Linked DNA regions of Homo sapiens. The protein of the gene in region 2 interacts with the protein of the main gene of each other region in a pairwise test. Each region holds a gene or a part of one and is shown on either strand. Other genes may lie near its edges.

The links. The genes of interacting proteins can lie anywhere in the genome.
Region 1: the proteins of KRTAP10-10 (region 2) and CSNK1G3 interact in binary tests that used the Homo sapiens proteins (3 or more experiments, as listed by UniProt).

The regions. Positions count from the first base shown.
Region 1 is NC_000005.10:123,508,365-123,515,176, reverse strand, and holds the start of CSNK1G3 (casein kinase I isoform gamma-3), read right to left. Parts: upstream 3,001-6,812; 5' UTR 2,607-3,000; intron 2,060-2,606; exon of another isoform or gene 629-2,059; intron 1-628. UniProt on the Homo sapiens protein: Serine/threonine-protein kinase. Casein kinases are operationally defined by their preferential utilization of acidic proteins such as caseins as substrates. It can phosphorylate a large number of proteins. Participates in Wnt signaling.
Region 2 is NC_000021.9:44,631,961-44,639,643, reverse strand, and holds KRTAP10-10 (keratin-associated protein 10-10), read right to left. Parts: upstream 2,289-7,683; 5' UTR 2,227-2,288; coding exon 1,471-2,226; 3' UTR 1,189-1,470; downstream 1-1,188. UniProt on the Homo sapiens protein: In the hair cortex, hair keratin intermediate filaments are embedded in an interfilamentous matrix, consisting of hair keratin-associated proteins (KRTAP), which are essential for the formation of a rigid and resistant hair shaft through their extensive disulfide bond cross-linking with abundant cysteine residues of hair keratins.

The DNA of each region.
Region 1 (6,812 bases), on a different chromosome or scaffold from region 2:
GCTTCTCATTTCTTCCTGAGTCACATTTTTACAGTCTGGATTGATTTCATGTATAACCAATTACTAGATTACCAGACACACCCATATTTAAATGCAAATAAAGAAATTTAACGAAACTATATATAGATTGTTTTGGATTATATACTTTTCTGCTTTCCTTCAGTAGTGCCAATGATAGAAAATTGACTATTTTATTATAACTTGTTTCCTTAAACTTACTATCGTTATTTGCCTACCTACTGTCAGCCTACGATCTGTACATTTGGACCTTCATGCCTCAAACTGACTCATCTTTAAATACAAGCTGAACTTCCATGGCCTGATCTCCACCTACTTTCATAGCTTCTCCCACAAAGACCTCCTGGCAAAACAGCCTTATGTCCAGTTCAACAAGCCCTATAACACAATCACATGCCTTTCCTCAGGCTGTTCCCTTCACCGAGAAAACTACCCCCACCATCACCCCCTCAGTCCCCATTTTGCCTATTAAACTATGTTAAGGCCCAGATGGAGTGTTACCAGCTCTACATCCATTCAAAATTTCCCAGTCAAAAATTAGTATCTCACACACACACACCCCATGCTTCCAATACACCTCCAACAAAACCCACAGGAATCTGTGAATTACCTCTGTGTATGTCTGCTTCTCCCTTGAAGGCAGTACTGAGTCTCATTCATCTTCATATTCTACCCACTGTTCCATCCTTGCCACAGAGTAAAGGTGGTCCTGGTTGAATTAAACTATTCCTTGATTCCACTAATTCCAGTCCTTTATTTTCAAGGAAGTAATAAATGCCTTTCATGTACTGAAGATTTTGTTAATATATTGTAAATGCTTGCTAAATCTAATGATGAAAATGTCAATAATTACATAACACACTAATGTTTAAGCTGATGAATGGCAGAAGGGGGTGGATGACTATAATAAATCATCAGTAAAGACAATCGTTTCTCAAGATCCCCAAAAAAATGTCATTCATAACAACATTAAAATTAACCTTTCTGTCTCCCATTTCAATAATTACTTCTATTTAATGCATATTCAGAAATGCCAGTTCACATAAAGCAGAAGTGTCTGTACATTCTGCTAAGAATGTATGTCAAAGCCACACAATGTATTTGATAACATCTTTCTTCCAATGTCCATAAAGGTAATTTTTATCTTTTATCTTTTGTGCAACTATAAAGGTTAACTATACAAAAGAATAAGACAATTTATCCTAAGATACAACTGGAGCAAAGTTTGTAAATAATTACAAAATACACTAAGTACAGCTCAAAAAAAAAGAAAGCTATTAATGTCACACACCAGATCTGATTTTTTTGGTGAAAAATATTTTCTTAAACTAGTTTCACATCTAATTCCACATTATTCTCACAATTTCTGTAATGTTTTTCTTCTAAATTTACCGGGAAAGCCAATATTCTTCAAAGAAACATCTTTAAAAAGAAACATCTTTAAAAAGTATATACTTTTCATTTTATATCCCATCTTAGATATAGTTTGCCATCTCTCATATCTGTGGCCAAATGTCATTTGAATCGGACTAAGTAATTGCAAAAAGTAAAATAATGACTTATTTTCTTAATTCATTAAAAATAAGTACATTTTTAATTCTCTAATTTAAAGTAAATATTTTAATAGAAGATTTAAAAGGAGCCACTGACCAGCCTGGGTGCTTACTACAAAAGAGTTGAAAGTAATTCACACAGTGTATCAACAGTAGCTGTCTCCCACACACACAGGCACACTCACTCTCTCCCCCATCTGAACTTTTCCTCCCTAAAACATGAGGTGGGAGAAGGGGAATGACCATGACACAGGCCTCACTACCCCCACCCCACGAGTAGACACACATCTCCCTCCTCATCCTGCTGAAAAGAAATGTGGAGGCTGTGGACCAAGAGACCCGATGCTTCTCAGTGTCACTTCCCCTGCATGTGGGATAAACAAACAAACCGGCACCATGAGAGTAACCATCAGAGTGATTTTGCTAACCTTTGACTAATGTCTTGGTTAAGTTTTGAGCTGAGTCAAAGCTCTAAGAAACAGGTAAATCCCTGTGTCCCCCCACCCAACCCCTTAAACACTCCAACGGGAAGTTTATCCCTGAGCTGAACGCTGGCCCCCGTCGCCTCCTCCCAGCCTATCCATGCCTCCTTCCTGCCTGAAGCCCCTACTCCAAAGGTAATTGTCTGGACACAGTCAAGGAGCACCGTGGGCGACACTCCCCACCTCCCAATCTCTCCTAAGGAAGCCCCCGCCGGCCCAGTTGGCCCACCTCCCTCGCCGCCCCAGTCGCGCCGCACCACTCCGGCAACTTTTGCACCCAGCCCGACCCGCCACCCGCGGCCCCCGCTGCCCCCTAGCCCTCCGCGCCCTCAGCCTCCGACCGCGGCCCCCTCCTGCCCACGCCTCCGGGCCACCCGCCATGGTCCTCGCCCACCCCTCCCCCGACACCCGCGCCTGCGGCGCCGCCCCCGCCGCACCCCACCCCACCCGCCCGGGACCCCAGCCCCACCCGGGAGGGAGGGCGCCGCGGCCGCGCCGAGGCAGCCGCCGGGCCGGGGCTGGCAGCGGAGCACCTACGCGCAGGGGGCTTTACCTCAAAGGCGCGGCCGCGAGCAGAGGGGTCGGTCCCGGGCGCGGGCGGCGCCCCCAGTCCGTCAGCGCCGGCGGGGGCAGCGGCGGCGGCACATCACACCCGCCGGCGGCCGGAGGAGGAAAGCGAGCCACGCAGGGAGCGAGCGAGCGAGCGAGCGAGGTAGGGGGGAAGGAGCGAGAGAGAGAGGTAACGCAGCGCTGCTCGGATTCGGTCCCTGCACTGCCGCTGGTGCCTCCTACCGCCGCCGCTGGCCGGAGAGTCGCCGCCCGAGCCTCTGCTGTCGCCACCGATGCAGCCCGGAATGAATGCACAGCAGCGCCTCGCTTATCCGGAGGTCAAACATCCTTCTGCCTCGGGCATCCGGATCGACGCCGGACCCGGAAGTGAACACATGGAAAAAAAATTAAAAAGGAAAGCGTCTGTTTAGCGGCGGCGGCCCCCAAGCTGCCCGCATCAGCGAAAACAGCCGAGTAGAGCCGAAGATTGCACCAACCTTCTTGGATTGGTCGGATCGCCGACCGGAAAGGAGACGGCGCGGTCATTGGCTGGCAAGGTGTATAAAGCCTAAGCCGCGCCCTATCCCCGTCTTTCTAGAGCCGTGCGTGAGGGAAAGTGGGGAGAGGCTGTGGATACGAGTGTTTCTCTGGATGAAGCAGTGGGCGGAGAAGCATAGCAAAGTCTACGCAGAGAACTGGAAGAGAACACCACCATGCTTTAGGAGAGCTACTAAGAACTGAGTGAGCAAAGAGCCTTAAGGGTACCATTGTGCCAAGTCAGGGTGCTGAGGCTTTCCCTGTTGTGCTCAGCCCGCCAGGTTCCAAAAAAATCTTAGGGCCCGGCCTAGGAGTATGACATCACTGGGTTGACATTTTTCCCCGCTTGTTTGTAACCCCAGTGCCATATCAGGGCTCCAACTGCTTAGAAATGTGAATTATGGCTCACATTTGCGTCTCATTTGCTGTTTGTAAGCTGAGGTAATCCTCTGAACTATATAGTGTGGCATTACCTGTTTTTCAAATTCACCTCCCAAAGTTCTGAGAAGCCAAACATCACCCAAGTTATCAAGTTGCAGCGCACAAACTGAAATCGGTGTTTCTGACTCACACTTAAGTCCACTCTGCCTACATAGAAAGACTGCATTCCTTTCATTTTCCCTCTTGCAGTTGCTTCCCTGGGATGGAGATAAGTCATTTTGGTAGACTTCTATGGAAATTGATCCACCATGAAGGCATGGAAACTATAATTTTTTAAAATTGTGATTCTTATGTCTCAAGTCCTTTCAAAAGTTAGGCATTAAGGTGTGCAGGAAGAAGAATCAGCCTGGTGCCATGTTTTTTAAATGTTCATTTTATCAAACCCGTTTATATTCTTAATATACTTACTGTATCAAGAAACTTGAGTCTTGTGTATCTCTATCTCTCCTGTCTACCTCTCAAAACGAAAAGACTAATGAAACAAATGCACTCCTTCATTTTCCTCCCTGCTTTGCTAGATTAACGGTATAGCTAATGTGTTACCTTTGGAAGGGTAGTTAGTATAGAAATCTGTTTTTGATTTTGGTTTGTAATACAACAGTGCCTTTTTTTTAAACCTCTCTTCTCACTTCTTCCCCAAACTGGAAGTTAAGAAGTGACTAGCATCACCAGCCTTAGAAGGGTAGTGATAAGAGCTTTGCTCCATGCTTACCACACCATCATTCTGTAGGAGACTCAAAAGCAGCTAAGATGTATGCATGCTCAGAATTGTGAATGACTTGCCTAGGGCAGATGACATATCCCAGAATTTCTGATCTCTCCCAGGACCCACTAATAGACAAGAAACAAAGTTAACAACATCTCACTCAATAGAAGAGAAGTGTCTGCAACACAGGAAACTCTAAATATTGTCCTCAACTCCCAACAAACCATTTTATTCTCTCTACCTCAAAAAACTCAGTTTTGATAAAGAACACCCACTCTTCTAAGTTTTCATAAATGGTTGAGAAAGTCAAGTGTATAAATATATGATCAAAACACATTTTTAAATTAAAAATGGGCTGGTCTAAGTACGGTGGTACTTACAACGAATTGCTCACAACCAGTTACAGATTTCTTTGTTCCTTCTCCACTCCCACTGTTTCACTTGACTAGTATTTATTAAATTATATTAGAAACGTATGGGAATAAATGTTTACATTTTTAACACTGCAGGGAAGACTTTTGGTTAAAATTTGGCCTATAAGCTCCTATAGATTAAAATTGGCAAAGCCTGGTGTAGTGGTGAATGCCTGTAGTCCCAGGAACTTGGGAGGCTTGAGGCAGGAGGATCTCCCAGTAGTCTAAGGCTAGCCTGGGCCACATAGTAGGATCTTTTCTCAAAACAAAAAAAAAAAAAAAAAAAGCAAGTAACCTAGGTAGGAGGCAATTAAATTTTCAGGTCATTCTATTAACTTATAAGAAAAATTGGTTTGGGAGGCCGAGGCAGGTGGTTCACCTGAAGTCAGGAGTTCAAGACCAGCCTGGCCAATGTGGCAAAACCGCATCTCTACTAAAAATACAAAAATTAGCCAGGTGTGGTGGTGTGCACCTGTAATCCCAGCTACTCTCGAGGCTGAGGCAGGAGAATCGCTTGAATCTGGGAGGCGGAGGTTGCAGTAAGTGGAGATAGCGCCACTCCACTCTAGCCTGGGCGACAGAGTGAGACTAAGTCTAAAAAAAAAAAAAAAAAGTATGTATATATATGAAAAATTGGCAATGTGAAAACAGCTTATATTAATGAAGGAAAAGCCAATACACAGGCATTGCAAGCAAAACTCTTTATCTTATAGCATGATGCTCCAACCTAAGCAGCCAGATTATACTTGTCAATCTGCTATATTACAAATCAAATAGTTTATTTGTTGTGTCACCTCACATTTCCTGGCATTGCCACTCTTCAGGTATTTATATTCTATTAATATTTTCATTATGATTATTGCATAAATTCATGTGATACTGTTGTCACAAGTTTTGTAGTACATTGGAAACTTGCATTTATCAAATTCTCTTTTCACAAAAGCTTTCTCTACATGTCCTGCAGATGCTTTGTGTGAGACAGAGAATGGTATGTAGAGTTTGTGGAATGTAAAGCTGGCCATTTTTTCTCCTTTGTAAGCAGTAAAACTTAAAGTTGAAGAAAGATGGAAATGAAACAGTTTGATTATGGTTTTAAGCAGGAAATTATGAGACTAAGATATTTACTAAGACTTTTCAAAATAAAAACAGATAAAACATTCATTTCCTTCTTTCAAATATTTTGTTTAACTGTAATGGTAAACCTGGCATGGTGATTAACTGGTTGCCAGAATAAGGCCTGAGGCATCACCAAATTATACTTAATTCTTTATTTTTTAACATTATTTTAAAGGAAAAGTACCTGGAAGAAAGATGTAATTAGGAAGAAGTAAACAATGAAGTAGAACGGGGAAGGATGCAAAATGGAGAACTGTAACAATAGCCAGGGGCTGGGAGTAGAGCAACATATTTTACTACGATGAAGAGGAAAATAATTTCTTCCCCCCGTCAAGCCTACAGTCAAGGGGAGAGACAAGAAGGATTGTGGGAGAAAGCCAGTCACATACAACAGCTAGATCAGGTTTTGGGGAAGCTATCGCTTAGCAACCTTTATTTTAGACTGTTACATGAGTACAGCTCGAAAAAGTCAAGACACTGTTTTATACCATCCTTAGAAGGATGATTTGAAGTATTTGGTAGGTGGTAAAATAAATGTACAATAATCACAAAACTTTTCTGAGAGGCTTTATTACATGTTATAATGTTGATCTTCAGAAATGTTTAATAAAATCACATTTCCAGGATTCCTTGTCTTAGCTCGGGTTGCCATAACAAAGTATTGCAGACTGAGTAGCTTAAGCAATACAAATTCATTTTCTCACAGTTCTGGAAGCTGGAAGTCTGAGATCAGGATGTCAGCATGGTCAAAGTCTGGTGAGATCTTTCTTCCTGACTTTCAGATTGGCACCTTCTCCCTGTGTCCTCACATGGCCTTTCCTCAATGTGTGGGCATGGAGAAAGAGGGTGATCTCTCTCTCTTCTTCATCTTAATCCTACAGAAGTCCCCACCTTTATGACCTCATCTAACCCTATTACCTGCCAAAGGCCCTACAAATTCCATCACATTTGGGGTTGGGGATTCAGCATATGAACTTTGGGGAGACAAAATTCAGTT
Region 2 (7,683 bases):
CCCCTGCCAGCTGCCCCAAAAACCGGGGCAGGTTTTTGGACAAACATCTCTGTCCCTGGAGGCCCCCATTTGTCCTTTCATGGGGACTTGGCTTTGCTTCCAAGGAGGTGGACAAGGCTGTGTCAGTTTGGCCACCAGCCCTGGGGACGGCTGCTGCTGGTTGTCCTGGGTGATCTGCCTCGAGGGGAGTGAGCGAGGCGGCTGTGCTGACCACAGGGAGCTCTGTGGGGTGGGACTCCGGGAGGTCCTGGTGCTGGGGCTGGCGGCCTCTGTCATTGACACGCAAGGGTCATTTGCTGGAGCCGGACGTGCGCTCTCAAATGCGCACAGCGACCTGGCGGAAAGAGTGCAGCAGCTTGTGCCACTTCCCCGACGTGGCATCTGGGACGGAGGGTGGCAGGCAGAGCTGAGGGCTATTTGGGAGAGACCTGGGAGGCTGGGGGTGCGGGGACAGGGTCCTCGGGGTCAGAGTCCAGGACCACGGGACCAAAAGGGAGCCAGGACCCTGAATGTCTAGGTGAGGCCGCATGGGGCAGGGGGGCCCGCAGGCTTGGTTAGTGGGTGCCATGGTCCCTGCCCATCTGTGCTCTCGCCAGCGATGCCTGAGCAATGGGTATTCCAGAACCCCATGAATACTGGGCTGCTGGGCTCGAGTCCTGGGGGAGGGCGTGGTCCCAATGTCTTACTGTGGAGGAGATGAGGGCTGCAGGGATGAGCACTGTGGTCCATAGCTGGTCTCCCCAGGGGTAACAGGAGGGGTGAGGCTGCTGGGTGGAGCCAGGCCCCAGGTGGTCTACCCCAGGCCTGGGGGGCAGCCATGGAGCTGGGGAGGGTGAATGTGGCTCAGGGGCCCAGAGTGCTGCCAGGGTCCACTTTGTCCCGAAACTCCTGGCCTTGGTTCCAGAGGCAGCTTTCCTAAGATGGGCCGGGGGGCCACGTGCTGGGGTTGGGGGCCCACGGGGCTAAGAGGGAGACTGGCCTTCAGGGTTCACAGAGGCCAGCACCAGAAGGCATTGCTTCCTGCCTCATCCCATGCCCCTCGGGGGTCCACAGACAGGATGGAAGGTCGACAGAGACAGAGGGGTGGAGCCAGGCCTGCTGGGGGTCAGGACTCTCCCTGCAGTCAGGGGTGGCATCACTTCCCACCTCACCCTGTGCCCCCCCGGGGGTCCACAGACAGGACAGAGGTTGGTGTGAGACAGAGGCGGCTTTATTAGAACTAGAGGGGGTGCTGCCCAGGGTGGAACCAGGCCTGCTGGGGGTTAGTTCTGCAGAACTTGGGTCTGGGGGAGTAGCTGGGGTCCCACAGGCAGCCATCATCTGGGAAGGACTGGGGGAGCATCCTGGTCCCCAAGACAAAGAGCCTGCCCCACCTTCTGAGGGTGTCAAAGCCAGAGAGGGCAGAGCTTGCTGGGGCAGCTGGGAGGTCAGCCCCTGGTGGGAAGGGACTCCGGATCACATCCAGGGCTGTCAGCAGCTGGACTTCTGGCCAGAGCAGAGGCTGTAGCAGGCAGGGCGGGAGCACACGGGGCGGCAGAGGAGGGAAACACAGGAGGCCGTGCGGCAGCAGCTGGGCTGGCAGGAGGAGGCAGAGGCACCGCAGGAGGGGACGGGCACGCAGCAGGTGGACTTGCACACAGGGTGGCAGAGGAGGGACACGGAGGAGGAGGGTCTGCAGCAGGAGGCGGTGCAGCAAGCAGGCTGGCAGCTAGACTGCTGGCAGCATGAAGTGGAAGCCCCAGAGCACACAGGCACATAGCAGACGGACTTAGAGCAGACAGGCACACAGCAGGCCTGCTGGCATGGGGAGGAGGTGCAGCAAGTTGGCTGGCAGCTAGACTGCTGGCAGCATGAAGGGGAAGACTCGGAGCAGGTAGGCACGAAGCACACAGGCTTGTTACAGACGGGCACGCAGCAGACGGGCACACAGCAGACAGGCACACAGCAGGCCTGCTGGCAGGGGGAGGAGGTGCAGCAATCCGGCTGGCAGCTAGACTGCTGGTAGCATGGGGTTGTGCAGGAGCTGGTGTAGCCTGATTGGCAGGCGCTGGGCTCACAGGCCGTCTGGCAGCAGGGGCTGGACACACAGCTCACTGGGGTGCAGACCAGGGTCAAGCTGGGGGCTGGGGCACAGCAGCAGGGCTCGCAGCAGCTCTCTGGGCAGTCGACTACCCGCCAAGAGTCAGTGCAGGCGCTGGAGCAGATGGACATGGTGGAGGCGGCCATGCTGGAGTGGGGAGGCGGTGAGCTGGGGGAGGTGTGTGAGTGAGTGAGTGTGTGAGTGAGTGTGTGTGTGAGCCTGTCAGCTGCTGGGGCTTTTATATGCCCAGGGCCTGTGTTTTCCCAGCAGGAGACTCAGCAATGCCCTCCCCTTCCGTGTTGGTGTTTGGAGCCGGGAGGACCCTCATTATTTCTGCTTCCTTTGCCATGACTTGTCCTCACTCTGCTCCTAACACTTGGCTGGTCCTGGGCAGGACCGGCGCCCCTGGCTGAGCCTGTCTCCCGGGAACACCAGGAGGGAAGGTGTGACCTCTCTGGGGCTGACCTGGTGACTTCCACCTGGCAGGTCCCGTGACTGTGCCCAGCGTGGGCCCTCAGCCTGGGGGAGGCCCAGCCTCTGTCTGCAGGGACCTCACGGGGTGGGCTGGCGTGGCTGAGATTGGGAGAGCCAGGACGGAGGTGCCTGTGTTGGGAAAAGATGCTTGAAGACAGCGCTTCCTGGCGGGCTCTGGGATCTTCTGAGATCCTGATGTCTGCCAAGGGCAGGAGGACAGGGAGGACCTCCCCTCCTCTGAGGAGATGGAATGTTCTGGCAAGGCCTCTGGACAGTCAGCTCATTAGGAGGACAAGGTTTGGGGACTGGCCTTTGGGTCTGGACTGCCATCCCCTGGAGCCCTGGTCAGGTGTCCTGAGAGGGGCGGGTGCAGGTCAGGGTCTGAGGGTGGGGAGGGGCCTCTACCTTGGAGAGGCAGGTGTGGAGTGAGGGTTGCGTGGAGAGTGGAGGATACTTGGGGTCTGGATGAGAAAAGTGTCAGATGGGGCCACAGTCAGCCCCACTGCCCGGACGCCTGGTCTTACTCTATGTTTGCACTTTGGCTGAAGCCACATGCCAAGAAGTTGAAATGTGATGTGAATTTCTAGTATCTGTAGGTGACATCATTGTCCACCTAGGATCAGAGTGACTGTCCCAGGCCACGCTCACTGAAGGGCTGGATGAGAGACAAAGTCACTGCACCCAGCACCCCCTACCTGTACCCCTGCCATGACAGTGTGGAAATACAATGGGAAAGGAAGCCCGTCAGCCAGCAGACCCAAGTATAAAATGCCCAGTGGAATGTCAGAGGGTCAGATGTGAACGAAAGCATAAACCTTGACCAGAACACATACAACGTATGTCCCCTGGAAACCCGGCAGGGTTGGGTGCTGGAGACCGGTCCACATGCCTCAGCTCAGCTCAGCATCCACGACGTTCCCATCACAGCCCTGAAGGAATCATTGGGTACACAAATGAAGATATGAACTGCCAGAAAGTACTTGTAATCTCCATGACAGGTGGAAGATTAATGTGAAAAATTTGAAGTCCTTACCACTAAAACAGGATAAGATACAAAAGAAATGAATAGAAGACTAAAAATTTTAAATTTCCAATAAGCATGAATGAGATGAACAGCTAGTTGATCTCATTAATAACTAAAGTTTCTCAGGTTTAAACACACGTCTCCCACCTGTAAGAGCAAACAAGATTTAAAATGCTGATAATATCCAGCATTGCAGAGCGAGGGGCTTCATTCTTAGAAACCCTTGGCAGGTGTAATTTTATTTAAATTGTGATCAACCATAAAATAAAATGTACCATTTTACCCATTTTAAAGTGTGCAATTCAGTGACAGTACAGTCATAATGTTGTGCAACCATCCCCACTACCTAGTTCCAGAATACTATCATCGCTCCCGAAGGAACCCCGGTACTATTAAGCAGCCATGCCCAGCCCCTGGCAACCAATACTATTCTGCTTGTCTCTATGGATTTGCCTGTTCTGCACATTTCATATAGACGCAGTCATGGAATATGTGGTCTTTGTGTCTAGCTTTGTTCACTCAGCATGTTTTCAAGGTACACCTGTGTTTGGGTATGTTTCAGAACGCCATTCCTTTTCTTGGCTGAATCATATTCCATCAAAGGGACACGCCACATTTCATTTATCCATTCATCTGCTAATGCACTTTTGGGTTCTTTTCAACTTTTGGCTAGTGTGAATAGTGCTTCTATAAACATTCTTTTTTTTTTTTTTTTTTTTTGAGACAGAGTCTCCCTCTGTCACCCAGGCTGGAGTGCAGTGGCCCCATCTCGGCTCACTGCAACCTCCACCTCCCGGGTACAAGTGATTCTCCTGCCTCAGCCTCCCAAGTAGCTGGGATTACAGGTGCGCACCACCACACCCAGCTAATTTTTTATATTTTTGGTAGAGACGGGGTTTCACCATGTTGGCCAGGCTGGTCTTGAACTCCTGACCTCAAGTGATCCTCCCGCCTCGGCCTCCCAAAGTGCTGGGATTACAGGCATGAGCCACTGCGCCCGGCCCTATAAACATTCTTGTACATGTTTCTGTTTGAACACCTCTTTTTAATTCTGTTGGGTATATACCTAGGAGTGGGAACTGATGAGTTGTATGGAATTCCATGTTTACATTTTGAGGACGTGCCAGACTGTTTTTCACAGCATCTGTACCATTTTATATTCTCACTAGCAATGTACAAACATTCCAGTTTCTCTTCATCCTTGTCAACATCTGCTACCTTCTATTTGTTGGTGTATGTGTGTGTTAAATTATAGCCATCTTGGTGGGTATGAAGTATCAACAGCATGTCATTGTGGTGTGGATTTCTGTTTCCCTAATGACCAATAACATTGAGCTTCTTTTCCTGCGTGTATCATCCATTTGCATATCCTCCTTGGAGAAATGTCTATTAAAGGACTTTGCCTATTTTTAAATTGGGTTGACTTTTTGTTGTTGAATTATAAGAGTTCTTTATATATTCTGGGTGTTAGATCCTTATCAGAATTATGATTTACAAGCATGTTCTTCCCTTGTGTGGGTTGTTTTACTCTCTTGATAGTGTCCTTTGATGCACAAAACTTTTTAATTTTGATGACATCCAATTTATCTATTTTTTCCTTTTGTTGCTTATGCTTCTGGTGTCATATCTAAAAAACCATTGCCCAAAATAAGGTCATACATATTTACTCTTATGTTTCCTTCTAAGAATTTTATGGCTTTATCTCATATATGTAGGGCTTTGATCCATTTTTAGTTAATTTGTTGGTGTGAGATGTAGTGCAACTTTATGATTTTGTGTGTAGATATCCAGTTGTCCTAGCACCATTAAAACAGAGACAGGGTATTGCTCAGCCTGTTGCCCAGGCTGGAGTGCAGTGGCACAATCATAACTCATTGCAGCCTCAAACTCCTGGACTTAAGTGATCCTCCCACCTCAGTTTCCCAGGTAGCTGGGACTACAGGTGCACACCACTATATTTGGCTAATGAAAAAACATATTTTTTTAGGGACCAGGGTCTTACTCTGTTACCCAGGCTGGTCTCGAACTCTTGGCCTTAAACAATCCTCTCATCTCAACCTCCTGAGTAGTTGGGATTACAGGCATAAGCCATCATTTTATAGCATTTGTGTACCTAACATCAGTTATAAACATTCATGTACCTAACAAACATCAGACCCCCAAGATATATCAAGCATAAATGGAAAGAAGAGAAGAAAGAAATAGGCAATTCCAGTTCAACAATAATGTTTGAAGACTTCAATAAGTCACTTCCACTGATTAAAAAAAATTTTTAAATAGAACTAGATCAAAGATCAATAACGAAATAGAGAACTTGAAGAACACTATAAACAAGCTAGATCTAATATGGCCGTGTATAAAACATTCAACCCAACAACAGCAGAATACAAATTCTTCTCAGTTCTCCAGATTAGACCATATGTTAGTCCAAAAAACAAGTCTCAATAAATTTAAAATTATTGAAATCATATAATGTATCTTCTCTGACCACAGTGGGAATTAGAAATCAATAACAGAAGGAAAACTGGAAAATTCACAAATATGTGGCAATTAAACAACACATACTTATAACAACCAGTTGATTGAAGAATAAATCAAAAGAGAAGTTAGAAAATACTATGGGATAAATGACAGTGACAATATAACAAACCAAAACTTATGGGATACGGCAAAACAGTTTATGGAGGGAAATTTGTAGCTATAAATGCTTATATTAAAAAACAAGAAAGATCTCAATTCAGTAATCTAACTTCACACCTTAAGGAACCAGGAAAAGGAAGAGCAAACTAAACCAAAACCTAGAAGAAGGAAGAAAATAAAGATTATATGTAGAATACAGGGAGCAAATAAAGAAATTGAGAATAGAAAAACAATGGAACCAACGAAGCCTAAAATTAGTTTTTTGAAAGCAACAATAAAATTTACAAACCTTTAACTAGACTGAGAAAAAAGAGAAGGCTCTAATTATTAAAATCAGAAATGAAAGTGGGAACATTACTGCTGACCTATATAGATAAAAAAGACTATAAGAGAATATATGAACAATTGTACACTAACACATAAAATCAATAAAATTTATTCCATTTAAGCATGTTTAGTGATATTAAATACATTCATAATGTAGATAACCTAGATGTAATGGATAAATTCCTATTAACATACAAACTACCAAAACTGATACCTTTATTAGTGTTCTTTATTTCTTTTCTTCTTTTTCTTTTTGAGATGGAGTCTTGCACTGCCACCCAGGCTGGAGAGCAGTGGCACGATCTTGGCTCACTGCAACCTCTGCCTCCCAGGTTCAAGTGATTCTCCTTGCCTCAGCCTCCCAACTAGCTGGGATTACAGGTGCCCACCACCACACTCAGCTATTTTTTTTTGTGTGTGTATTTTTAGCAGAGATGGAGTTTCACTATGTTGGCCAGGCTGGTCTCAAACCCTTGACCTTCTGATCTGCCCGCCTCAGCCTCCCAAAGTGCTGGGATTACAGGCGTGAGCCACTGTGCCCAGCCAGTTCTTTATTTCTTAATATGGCTTCAAGTTATTGTCTAGTGCCCTTTGATTTCATCCTGAGCTGTCATTTCTTGTAGGGCAGGCCTACTGGCAATAAACTCTCTCAGCATTTATTTATCCAGAAGTGTCCTAATTTCTCCTTTAGTTTCAAAGAATCATTTCATTGGACACAGACTTCTTGGTGGACAGTTTTTTTCTCTTTCAGCACTTTAAGTACATCATCCCATTGCCTTCTGTTCTTCATGGTTTTTGAAGAGAAATTGGCTGTTAATCTTCTCTCTTCCTGCTTTCAAGATTCTTGTTTTGTCTTTGGCTTTCAATAATTTAATTTTGTGTTTCTGTGTGGATCTTTTTGAGTTTATTCTACTTGAAGCTCATGGAGCTTCTTGAATGTGTAGATTCAATGTGTTTCATCATATTTGGGAAGTTTTTGGTCATTATTACTTCAAATATTTAAAAAATTATTGTAGTTAAATACACGTGAAATTTATCCCATTTTAAGTGTACCGTTCAGTGATATTAAATACATTCATAATGCAGTGCGGTCATTGCCACCATCCGTCTTCAAAACTTTTCATCTTGGAAAACTGAA